3 linked regions of the Homo sapiens genome follow. The protein of the gene in region 2 purifies or fractionates together with the protein of the main gene of each other region. This does not show direct contact. Each region holds a gene or a part of one and is shown on either strand. Other genes may lie near its edges. The genes, in order: COLEC12, FRMD3 and FAM234B.

Evidence for each region.
Region 1: the proteins of FRMD3 (region 2) and COLEC12 purify together in Homo sapiens (affinity purification with mass spectrometry; 2 studies listed by BioGRID and IntAct, with this or other methods). This does not show direct contact.
Region 3: the proteins of FRMD3 (region 2) and FAM234B purify together in Homo sapiens (affinity purification with mass spectrometry; 2 studies listed by BioGRID and IntAct, with this or other methods). This does not show direct contact.

What each region holds. Positions count from the first base shown.
Region 1 is NC_000018.10:490,684-494,337, forward strand, and holds part of COLEC12 (collectin-12), read right to left. Parts: intron 1-3,654. UniProt on the Homo sapiens protein: Scavenger receptor that displays several functions associated with host defense. Promotes binding and phagocytosis of Gram-positive, Gram-negative bacteria and yeast.
Region 2 is NC_000009.12:83,307,808-83,311,461, reverse strand, and holds part of FRMD3 (FERM domain-containing protein 3), read left to right. Parts: intron 1-913; coding exon 914-977; intron 978-1,837; coding exon 1,838-1,926; intron 1,927-3,654. UniProt on the Homo sapiens protein: Putative tumor suppressor gene that may be implicated in the origin and progression of lung cancer.
Region 3 is NC_000012.12:13,057,769-13,061,422, forward strand, and holds part of FAM234B (protein FAM234B), read left to right. Parts: intron 1-682; coding exon 683-781; intron 782-3,654.

The sequences.
Region 1 (3,654 bases), on a different chromosome or scaffold from region 2:
ATAACCAGAAAATGCCCCCAAAGAGCCAGAGTGTGGAGTTCAACCTGAAACCACAGAAGACGCAGTTTGAAGCTGGAGCCTTCAATACTTGACACAAAGCAGGTTTCCAACAAATGCCAAACCAAACATCATAGCAAATGCAGACATTTTTAGGAGCCAGCCTGAAGGACCGTGGACAGGGACTAGGCTGAAGTTAGACTTCTCTTCCATGCTGGCCCACTGGCGCTGTCTACATATGAGTACCCATTGGTTGCTCTATCGTGTTTAGACCAGGGTCCATTCCCAGCTCTTGTACATTTGTCATTACTCTTAGAACAAAATGGTATGGTATCACTGGTTGTTAAAATATTTAAGTGCTTCCAAACCAGCTGGTTGAAGAACAATGGCCTCTGCTCTGAGCATTTCTGCAAGCTGTCCCTGTTTCTACTGTCACCACCACCCACTGTAGCAGGTCCTTGCCCCTGTATCCCTGGGGCCATCAGGACCCCTGAGTCTACAGTCACTCTCCACTGACCAGTGCTCCAAGGAGTTGCTTTCATATGGGAATGGTGGCTTCCACAGTGTGTCACCTGGGTTGCTAAATATTTGGAATGTCCCCTTGATGTTGCTGTGATATCTGGAAGACTTCTTTCCTAACACCAGAGGCTGATAGAATTAATGGTAATGTGTGGGCTTTGAAATTCAAAGACCTGGGTTTGAAGACTGGCTCCACCTTGTAATAGCAATAAGCTCATGTCTGCCTCTCAGTCTCCTATAAGCTGGAACCAATGATTCCTATCTCACACATTTTGGGGAGGGAAATGTGAACTGACACATGGAAAACATCCAACACATACCATCTGCTTAATAAATATGAATTTTCTTTGAAGTAAGAGGACAGAGGCAGTGGTAAAAGCTACTATGCCTTAAGGTCCAAAATAAATATCCTAGAACTTTAATCATCTGGCTTCAAAAGACACAAAACTCCATTCTGAGGTGACTATTTGGGGGAAGGACCAACAGGAAAGCTTGATGAGCAAAAGAGTAATGCGTGCTGCAGGTTCTATTTGGGCTTCAGCAAATTGGCACTGAAGTACCTGGTTGATATTGATGAAAATTTATCTTAACGTATTTTGGGCTGTAAAAACTGAAGAAAGGTGTCCTTTTATCTTGATATGTCCCTAAGCACAGTATCGGTAATATTTGCCCTGGTTTTATAGCTTTACAAATGTAAACCTGGCTCCCCGCATGGTTTCCTTTTTCCAGTCTTGGCATTTCTGGAACACAGTTATTATGTATTCTCCTGGTGAATGAACTCAATGCAGCGTAACAAAGTATCTGAGGTTCAGGATATTTTGTAGGGGGGTAATTAGATCGGCCTTCCATTCAACTGTTTCACTCCAAATGGATGAAGGAATCTGTAGCAGTTTAAATACTTGTAGATTATTTTAAAGTATCACAGGAGATTCATTTTGATTACTCAGCTGCTTACTGAATTTGTTTTGCAACAATGGGATCACTTTTGATTCAATTGCACAGTTTTTTCAAGTCAAAAGTCAAAATTATAGACATAAAATGACTCCAATTTCTGGCACAACTTGCAATTCTGATGCTTGTAAAAATGGCAGATACTTGCTTTTAGAATAAAGAGGCATGGGTACCCTATTCCTTCCTTTACAGTCTAACAAAACTGAGAAAGGGTGTTTTTGTTACTTTTACCCCTAAGTTGGCAGTGGGGGCTAAATCAGATTTCCCCACAGCCACCAACTGCAAGAACTTAGAAGTAATCAGTAAGTACGACATCCAAAACCTTGACATCTGCATTCATCATTCATAGGTGATTATGGTGGAGGTGATGCACTTCCCTTTCTTCTATGAGGAAAATTCTCATCCAGTCATTTTAATCATGTTAATAAGAGAGTCAGAATGAGGCCTTGAATCTCTGCCTTAAATTGAATAAGGGCCTTGGCAGGGCCTCAAATACATGGGTGATTTGGCAAGAAAAACTAATGCTGTCCATTTCTCTGGAGACAAAAAAAAAAAGAGGTCTTTGGTTTAAAAATAACACCGATACGTCTTTTTGTTTTGAAATCCATTAACGTTGTTTAGATTATCTAAACAATTATGCCAAAGCAATATACTATAATTATTTACAAATGTTGGACCAACGTTTTGAGTTTAAGAGACACAATTCAAGAAGACTCTGAATTTGGTTTCCTCTCACCTCCCACACTGAAATGTCACACTTAAGAGATTTCAGGTCAGGCACGGTGGCTCATGCCTGTAATCCCAGCACTTTGGAGGCTGAGGCGGGCAGATCACTTGAGGCTAGGAGTTTGAGACGAGCCTGAGCAACATAGCAAAACCCTGTCTCTACAAAACATACAAAAATTAGTTGGCCATGGTGGCACGCACCTGTACTCAGTCCCAGCTACTTGGGAGGCTGAGGCAGGAGAATCGCTCGAACCCAAGAGACAGAGGTTACAGTGAGCCAAGACTGTGCCACTGCTCAAGGGATCCTCCCACCTCAGTCTCCCAAGTAGCTGGGACTATAGCCACTCACCACCGCACCCATTAAATTTTCTGTGGAGACAGGATCTTGCTGTGTTGATCTGGCTGATCTCAAACTCCTGGCCTCAAGCAACCCTCCCATCTTGGCCTCCCAAAGCACTGAAATTATAAGCACGAGTCATCAGGCTCAGCCCTCCTCTCTTTTAAGACATTTTTCTTTAATGTTGCTTGCCCTATTAATGTAATATGAAATATAATTCAAGATATGAAATATAATGTAATCTGAAATATGAACTATAATTCAAATCTCTCCTGCAAATGAAAATGTCCCTGTCTTCAGCCAGATTATCTGAACCTCAAACAGGGCATGTTCTACTCTCTACTTTGGATTCCAGTTGTTTACGCATAAGTCTTGTCTTGTCTACCAGACTGCAAGCTCCATGAGCACAGAAGCTATATTTTATTCATTTTATTTGGCATTTCTAGAGGGCCTTGCACACAGAAAGTTAATACCAAATATTTGTTTAAAGAATAAATGAAGGCTAGTTAGAACTTGGTGGCCCAATTATAAATAATAAAACAGAAATATGACAGCTTAATGGAAAACTAATACTACTGATGAAATAGACATGACATCATATGGTTTAAAAACATACTTATACATACATCTGTCCGAATACTTATTTAGAGACAAACTTGTTTAATGTTGTGATTCCTTGATGTCATATCCTTACTGGATAAAACCGGACACTGGATTTGAAACACAGATCTTTAAAAATATCATGTCATCAGTAGGCACGTGAGCAATAGTACTAAAAAAAAAACAGTGCTCCTAGGTAATCTAAATATACTTACACATATTTATCAATTTTCTACCACTACTATAACAAATAGAAAAACTGTTTCATTACTACAATTACAAACTTCACTTTGGGAATTATCCCTGCATTTTTTATGATGATAGCAGTGACGGCAGCTGGAATGCAACCAATACTAATACTTCCCCACGTGGAGCACAACTCACTCCTTCTATCCCTGAGGTCTGTTTTAACACATTTGCAATTTGAAAATTACTTTCATTTCAGAACTGAACATTTGCCTTCATGGTCTAAACTACATCACTGATTAAATGAACATAGATGGCTCATAATTGGCAATTAACTT
Region 2 (3,654 bases):
GTGAAGATGCTTTTGGCAAAAGGTAGTAGGAATGTCTACTCATGATGGCTTACAAATAAGAGGACTAATCAGCTCACAGAGCAAACGTGGAGCAGTTCCCTGGTCTGTTAACTTAACTGCCTATTAACTTAAATGCCGGGAAGGATTTAGGTCTCTGTTTTTTTTTTTTTTTTTCTCTGCCATTCTCAGTCAGGCGCATTGGTCCTGAGGCTCCTGCTCCTGAGATGGGCATGTGCGGGACTGGCCTGCACATCTCCCCATGGCAATGCCCGGAGCCTGGAGGAGAGCAGCCCCTTCCATGTGTCTCCTTTTCAAACAAGGATAATTTTTTAGAAGCCCTGTAGGAGACTTCCTGTATACCTAATTGGACAGAATTGGGTCACATGTTTCTATTTAAACCGGTCCTTGCTGAAAAGAATGGGAACTCCAATATATAAGAACACAATTCTTTTGTAAACAGGGAAAACAGGAGTGAACATTTTGCAGTGCAGTGGATTTGCTTCTTGGAAATGGATGCAGAAGGAGGAGAAAGTCAGATACTGTGAATCCGCATCATTTCATTAACTGAATCTGAAATCACCACGTTCTTCCCACCTTGCTAAGTGGGCTGGGCAATTAATATTGTTCTGATCATTAATGTTCACGAACACTAGAGCTTCTTGGAAGAACGATGCAGCCTGACTGTAAATAATAGAATAAATAATTCTGAGCTCTGTGCGGATCCTCTCTTGGGAAGAGAATTGCTGTATAATTCACTCGAGGCTTTTCACTGCCCATTAGACCTTCACCAATGATAATACCTTGTTTCACTGCAATCTGCCTGGCATTTTTGAGTCAGATTCCTATGGGAAACCCAGGTACCTTGGTTAGCTGCCACTTTTTTTCTTCTTACCCAGAGATTTTCTTTTCTTAGGCCAGATGTCTGCAAATTGAAGTTTGAAGGGAAGACATTTTATGTGATTGGCACCCAGAAGGAGGTCAGATACTGCTTTTTTTTAACTGCCTGTTATTGTGTGTGCATGAGAGAGATTCAGGAGTAAAATATGCCTTTAGTATTGTAGTCGCCAAAGACCATGACTTTGAAGTGTATGGTGATAATGAAAGCTATATGCTAAAAATATTTTAGAGGCAAACAAATGAGTACTGGGTTTGTACATTGAACAATAAAGTCAGTAAGCAATGCTGATTGTACACCCCCATGTGCAAAACAGACTGGGATAGACTTTGGAAATAAAAGATGGAACCTCTCCCTACCTCTTTTTGCCAAGATACAGACATGTGAAACAAATAAAGAATACTTACAAAGCTAAATATTCAACAACCAGTGCTCATTAGAGTGTTATAAACAGAGCCTATTAGTCCAGAGAGTCTTAAAACAAGGGAGTTACTAGATATAGATTGTGGATTCACCAGGGAATGCATTTGTGCGGAGACCATTAACAAAATATTAAGCCTCAGAGGTAGCTCTAGAAATTTGCGGGTTTTCTTGTCATGAGTTTTCAGCCCAAGTACTAGTTCCTCAAGGATGGCAAATATGTTTTTAGGCTAATTCCAGTGTGACAGAGAGGTAGATGATGCCTGGAGTGTTGAGAAGCATTGTGAGGCTGATTTTGATCAGAAACAGGTCCTAGATACATTAGTGATATCTGCAAAGGGTGAGGGAGGGGTGAATACCATGTTAATAACACTGTAAATAACATAGCAATATGTTAAGTTACTTCAAGTCTGTGTAATAGGAGATAGGATACAAAGAGGTAAACACCTGAAAAAAAAAAACCCATGGAAAATGTAAATGGTATTTTACGTGCCTTTTCTTGTTTTGTTATTTTTTAATTAGAAAAAAGCCATGTTGGCATTCCATACTTCAACACCAGCTGCCTGCAAACATCTTTGGAAGTGTGGAGTGGAAAACCAGGCCTTTTATAAGTAAGTGGCTTTTATTCATTTAATTATAGCTTTTAAAAGCACCCATGGAATTCTTTATGTTTTGCAAATGGCTGCATATTTATTTCTTTTAATACAGTTTTAAAAGTTATATTTAAGTAAATTAAAATTTTGTGCATTGTTCAGGGTGACTCCCGGTGATTGTTGGCTTGTTGGCCTGACCGAGTTCTGAGCTCTATGTTGGATGTTTCCTGTGGAATGGCTGTGGGCCACTGTGTGTGTGTGTGTGTGTGTGTGTGTGTGTGTGTGTGTGTGTGTATTTCAAATAGCTATTTCCACAAAATATGTCACAGGATCAATTTTTGGTTGCCCTCCTCCCCCCACCCCCACAAAGCAGACCTTGAGATAGTTTGGTACAAGTAGCTTATTTGGGATGTAATCAATGGACATACCAGTAGGGGAGTGGTGGGGGGTGGTGAGATGGGGAAGCAATATAAGATGCATTATTGAGCAGGTCACTACTGTGGACAACTGGGCTCAGATCTTCTTAGGAACTCTGGGACATGGTATAATATGCCTCACAGTTCTCCTGCTGATGGGCAAAGAGGTGGGGCTGTTTATCTACCAATTCGCCATTTATTTTGGTTGAAGCCTGCTTTGGGGGCCAGAATTAATACTCTCTGATATTTCTGGCTTACTCTGAGTATGGGTTGGATGTGCTTTCACAACCAGAAAAAGAGACCTCTGGCAGAGAGTCACCTGTGTTCATAGTAAGAAGGCTTCAGTGTATTGAAAATAGAGCCAAAGGTTTATGGGTGGAATGCTGTCAGAGCCTAGGATCATAGAAAGTAGGTGCTGGACAAGACTTCAGAAACCATCTGTAAAGCTCTCAGGTTTCAAAAGAAGTTCAAACTGAGATCTGTGCATGGAGTTACACCTTCTTCTCTGAGAGACGCTTGCTGACTGGAAAGGCAGTGGTAGTGGATGCAACTAAGAACCTAGTCCAGCCCTGCTCAGGCCATCAGCACTGTACACCCCTGGACCTCATCCAGGTGGCTTTTGATCAGTCCCCCTGCCCCTTACAGTGAGATTCTGTCTTCCTGATTAGACTCATCTCCCTGAAAATGCTGTCTCTGAACCTCCTGGGCTTTGGCTGATGAGAACCATCAGGAGAATGATGGCTTGGATAATGATTTTGAAACCAGTTTCGGCCACAGAATACTTTTCCTTAATCTGAAGTATAGGCAAAGTCCAGCATGTAAAGGAGATAAAAAGAGAAGTTGTGGTGGTAGATGGGGCCTTGGATGGGATTGGAGATTGAAGGGTCTTTGCCCATTGTTCATTGCTTTTCAGGAGCTTGGGTGACCAGTTGTCCAGGTTGCCTATGCCTTTCCTAAGTTTAGCACTGACATCCCCATGTCCCAGGAAACCCATCAGCCCTGGGAAAACCCAGGAGCATAATTTGAACACCACTGGGTGAGATGACGCACAAAATGCTGTGCTAGGAATGATTGGAGAAGGTGATGTGTACCAGTAGACCTTCCTGTGACCACCACCACCTCAAGGTCTTTGTGTGCCTCCTGCATGTTTGGGGACTGATAAGGAAGGAGACCAGTTGGCCTTCGGAAAATCTACATGTCTAGAAGCCTTCACCCACATGAGAGTTCAGAGAGGGAAACACAGAGGGTTTGATGCTCTCAGTCTTTAGTTGGAGCCTTAGTGATTTTTTATTTTGTTTTAAAAAAAATTTTTTAAATGGAAATCTAATTT
Region 3 (3,654 bases), on a different chromosome or scaffold from region 2:
GTGGAGAGGAGGGAGAGGGCTGCCTTGTTGATGCTAGTTGGGGTGGAACTCCTTTGGTCCTGCTAGATGAGGATGACAGTCCTTGCCCCCACCTGGCTTTCTCTGACATGACCCTGATGGTGGTGGTGGTGGTGGGGTACCTTGTTACATCCAGGAGAGGGTGGGAGCCAGGCTCCACATTCAGCCTTTGCTATATGAGTGGGTGGAGCTGGGCTGATAATTTTATCTGTTTGGTTGGAGTAGAGCAGTTATTATCTACAACTTTCCTGTCTTGCTGGACTGCACCTTTCCTGGGCTTTTGGCTAGGGAAGGCAGCCTTTTCTGGGGCTTTTTTTGTCTGTATCTGTGGTGTTTCTGGGTTGCTGGCTTTTCCAGCACCCTATCTGGGTATTATGAGGCCAAAAGAAAACCCAGGGGACTCATCACCTTGTCATTCCTTGGGTCTTGCAGTCCCTAGCTGGTCTGCTTCCTTCTCTCTGCCTTTTAGAGTTGTCTTATGTTTGTTTTATGTACAGTGTCCAGGGCTTTTCCATGCACTTAGCAGGGGGAGTAGGGAGAGGTGTGTCTACTATACCTAGTCGAGGAACTGGAGTCTGCCTGGTGTTTATAGAGCTACTGGCAACAGAGAACTGGTTTGTGGTAACTTGCTCAGGACCTTTTTGGTTTTTTATGTGTATAACAGGTGGGGACCTGTCTCCATTGGAATTGGCTGATGTGAATGGAGATGGCCTGCGTGATGTGCTTCTCTCCTTTGTGATGTCAAGGAACGGGAGTGCAGTAGGTAAGAGACGTGTTTTTTTCAAGGCTGCTACAGGGGCACTGTCAGCTAGGAGAAAACATCAGAGCTGTGTCCCAAGTGGTACTGCAGAGAAGGATCTGCAGTGAACAGAAAGTTACCATGGTTCTGGCATACATGAAAACCCTCATCAGAAAGCTTCCACATATAAATAAAGCTCAGTCTAAGAAATCGGAGGGAGTTAGAGCTGGAAGGAATTTTTAGTGGTGACCAGGCCAGTGAAGAAACTGTGATGCAGAGAGGAAGTGACTTGTCCACACACTTTGCAACGAACAGTGTTAGTCCTCGGGTTCCTTGGGTTTTCTCCTGGTTTTCCATTGCCTCTTAGATTATAGTGAACATTGACTTTATGCTACCCTCCTATCCCTGGAAGAAAACTTTTGTTCATAGACTTATACATCTTTACACAAATACCTCTTGGCCGGGTGTTTTCCTTTCCCCCTTCAGTTTACACTTGTAGACCTGCTGTCCATCCTGCTCTCTGCATGGGGAAGCTGAGCTGTATGGATGGTATCAACAGGCTTCCTTGCCTGCTGGTCTCCTTTCAATGGGGAGCACAGCTCAGGAATGGGAGGGGAGTAAGAGTGTGAGGGGAGGTATTCACTCCCCTGGCTCCCTCCCCGCCGGGGTCACTGCAGAATGGCTGCTACAGCCTTGACCCTGGGTCACAGCTCGTTTCAAGGTGGCCCTCCTATAGGACTTTCCTTTTCTGGATTCCAGTAATTGCGTCCTCTCCTTGTGTCTTTGTTGGGGAGCCTAACAGTTCTGAGGGTCTGCACTATCACTTGTGGTGTTTCTACATGCTGGCCACATCTTTGTGAATAGTCTCCTTAAGAAACCGTCCACAACTTACCCTCATTTAGGGTGCTGTTTCTGGGATCCCAGCTTTTACACATGTCAGCTGTAGAAAAAGAAAAAATGCGTTCTGATTTCAGCCTAAGTACACAAGGCTTTTGGTTGATCCTGCAGCCTCCACTACAGTGGAGTCAAACTGCAGCCTGTGAGCTGATGCAGGGACCTAGTTTGATGCTGAGGATGCCCTAGTGACTGCTTTTAAGTCGTCTAGGCCTTGGAATACATGTCTAGGTGTGTTTTAGAGAATTCTAAACCACATCTCTTACATTAGTAGGAGTGGCTTTCTGAGGCCCACATGAGATGTGGAAGCAATCTGGGTGGAGATCTGCTGTAGAGAGCATCTCCAGCCTAGGAGTAGATTTCCGTGCAATCAAAACTTGATTACACTTTTCCTGCCCGTGACTTCTGAAGTAAAAATCTTCCCCATCTACTTAGATTTAGAGATGTTTTTAGTCATTTGGTATCTTACGTAGTTTGCTTCATACCAAGACTCATAATGGCAAGGCCATGGGTTTGGACACAATATGGACCAGGCTGATTTGGCCACAGACTGTACAAATAAGGATATAGCGAACATATGGTGCTTTCTATGTGTTAATACACCATTGTCAGCACATAACGTATGAAGGAATTTATCCTTCCACACAGTCCTGTGAAGTAGACCCATTATTATCCCCCTTTTGCACATGAGGAAGGTGAGACGTTGTGAGGTTAAAGAACTTGCCCAGTCCTACTGCTGGTAAATGATAGAGCTGGGGATTCGGATCCAAGGAGTCTGGCTCTGGAGTTCATGTCCTTGACCCTCATGCCAAGCTGCTGTGCCCATAACCCACAAAGCTTTGTGCTACTGGACACAGAGGGATTGAGTTTTTTGTCTATTCACTTGTTCCTTCATTCAGCAACTGTGTGTTGATACTAACTGTGCGGCAGCCACTCTGCACCTTCTCTAGAGTTCTGATGGTTACACACAGACTGCCGAACAAGAGGAGCCTGGCTTTGGCCTCGAGAAGTCATAGTCTAGCAGGAAGGGGTAATCCATCACCATCTGGGAAAAGACGAGTCAGAGCATTGTAGGATGGAGTAGGGTCCTCCAGTAGGAAGAACCACACAGGATAGGGATCCTAGCACCTTTGAGAAGCCTGGAAGTTACCATATACCACCTCTGTTTGTCATATATATCTTCTGGCAACAGGGTCTGAAACAGCCAGCCATTGTTTGTCACTTGTTTTTAGGTTGTATATTCAATTAGTCGTGCTGAGGAATAGGTAGAAGGAAGCTCTAAAAGTTTTGTTTCCTTATCCATATTAGTTGTTGCTGAAAGTGGGAACTGTATGAAATGAGTCACGTGTCCCTATCCTGAGAGTGAATGTGAAACTGACAAGGGAGAAAGTTCTGAGTCTGATGTAGTAATTAAGTGACATAAAGGCTTATTTACTAAGGATCATGGCTACTCTAATCCCTTACCAGCTGTACTTGGATCTAGGTATTAGGTCTTCCCAAATATTTTTTCCTGACTGGGACCAAATCAATTGATTCCAGAGAACTCTAGACTAGCAAGACCCACTCATCATTGCTATATGTAATCTTCAAGTTTATTTTTTCAAAAAAGAAAATATTTTTCTGCTCTCAGGAAGCATTTATTAGTGATGATTAGAATTCAGGTATTTTGCTCCCCGCGCTGCACACGTTCTGGATCAGTCTCATGTTTCCGAGCATATCTTTTCCTCCTGGTTTTTTGTTCTTAACTACTTTTTCGCATTCTTGATTTTGCTCCTGTCTCTTATTAGGCAAACAGTCGGTTGCTGTAGGTACAGAGATTAGTGAGACAGTCTTTCTCCTTAAGGATATCACCATTTAGTTGGGGCCGAGGTGGCAGACATGTAAAGAGTAGTGTTGGGAAAGGTGCAGAAGTGGAGATGCATTCGACAGTGTAGAGGAGGCCACAGCTCTTGTCTTACATGAGAAGCGTGTTCAGCAAAGATGACAGGCACTCTGTGTTCACA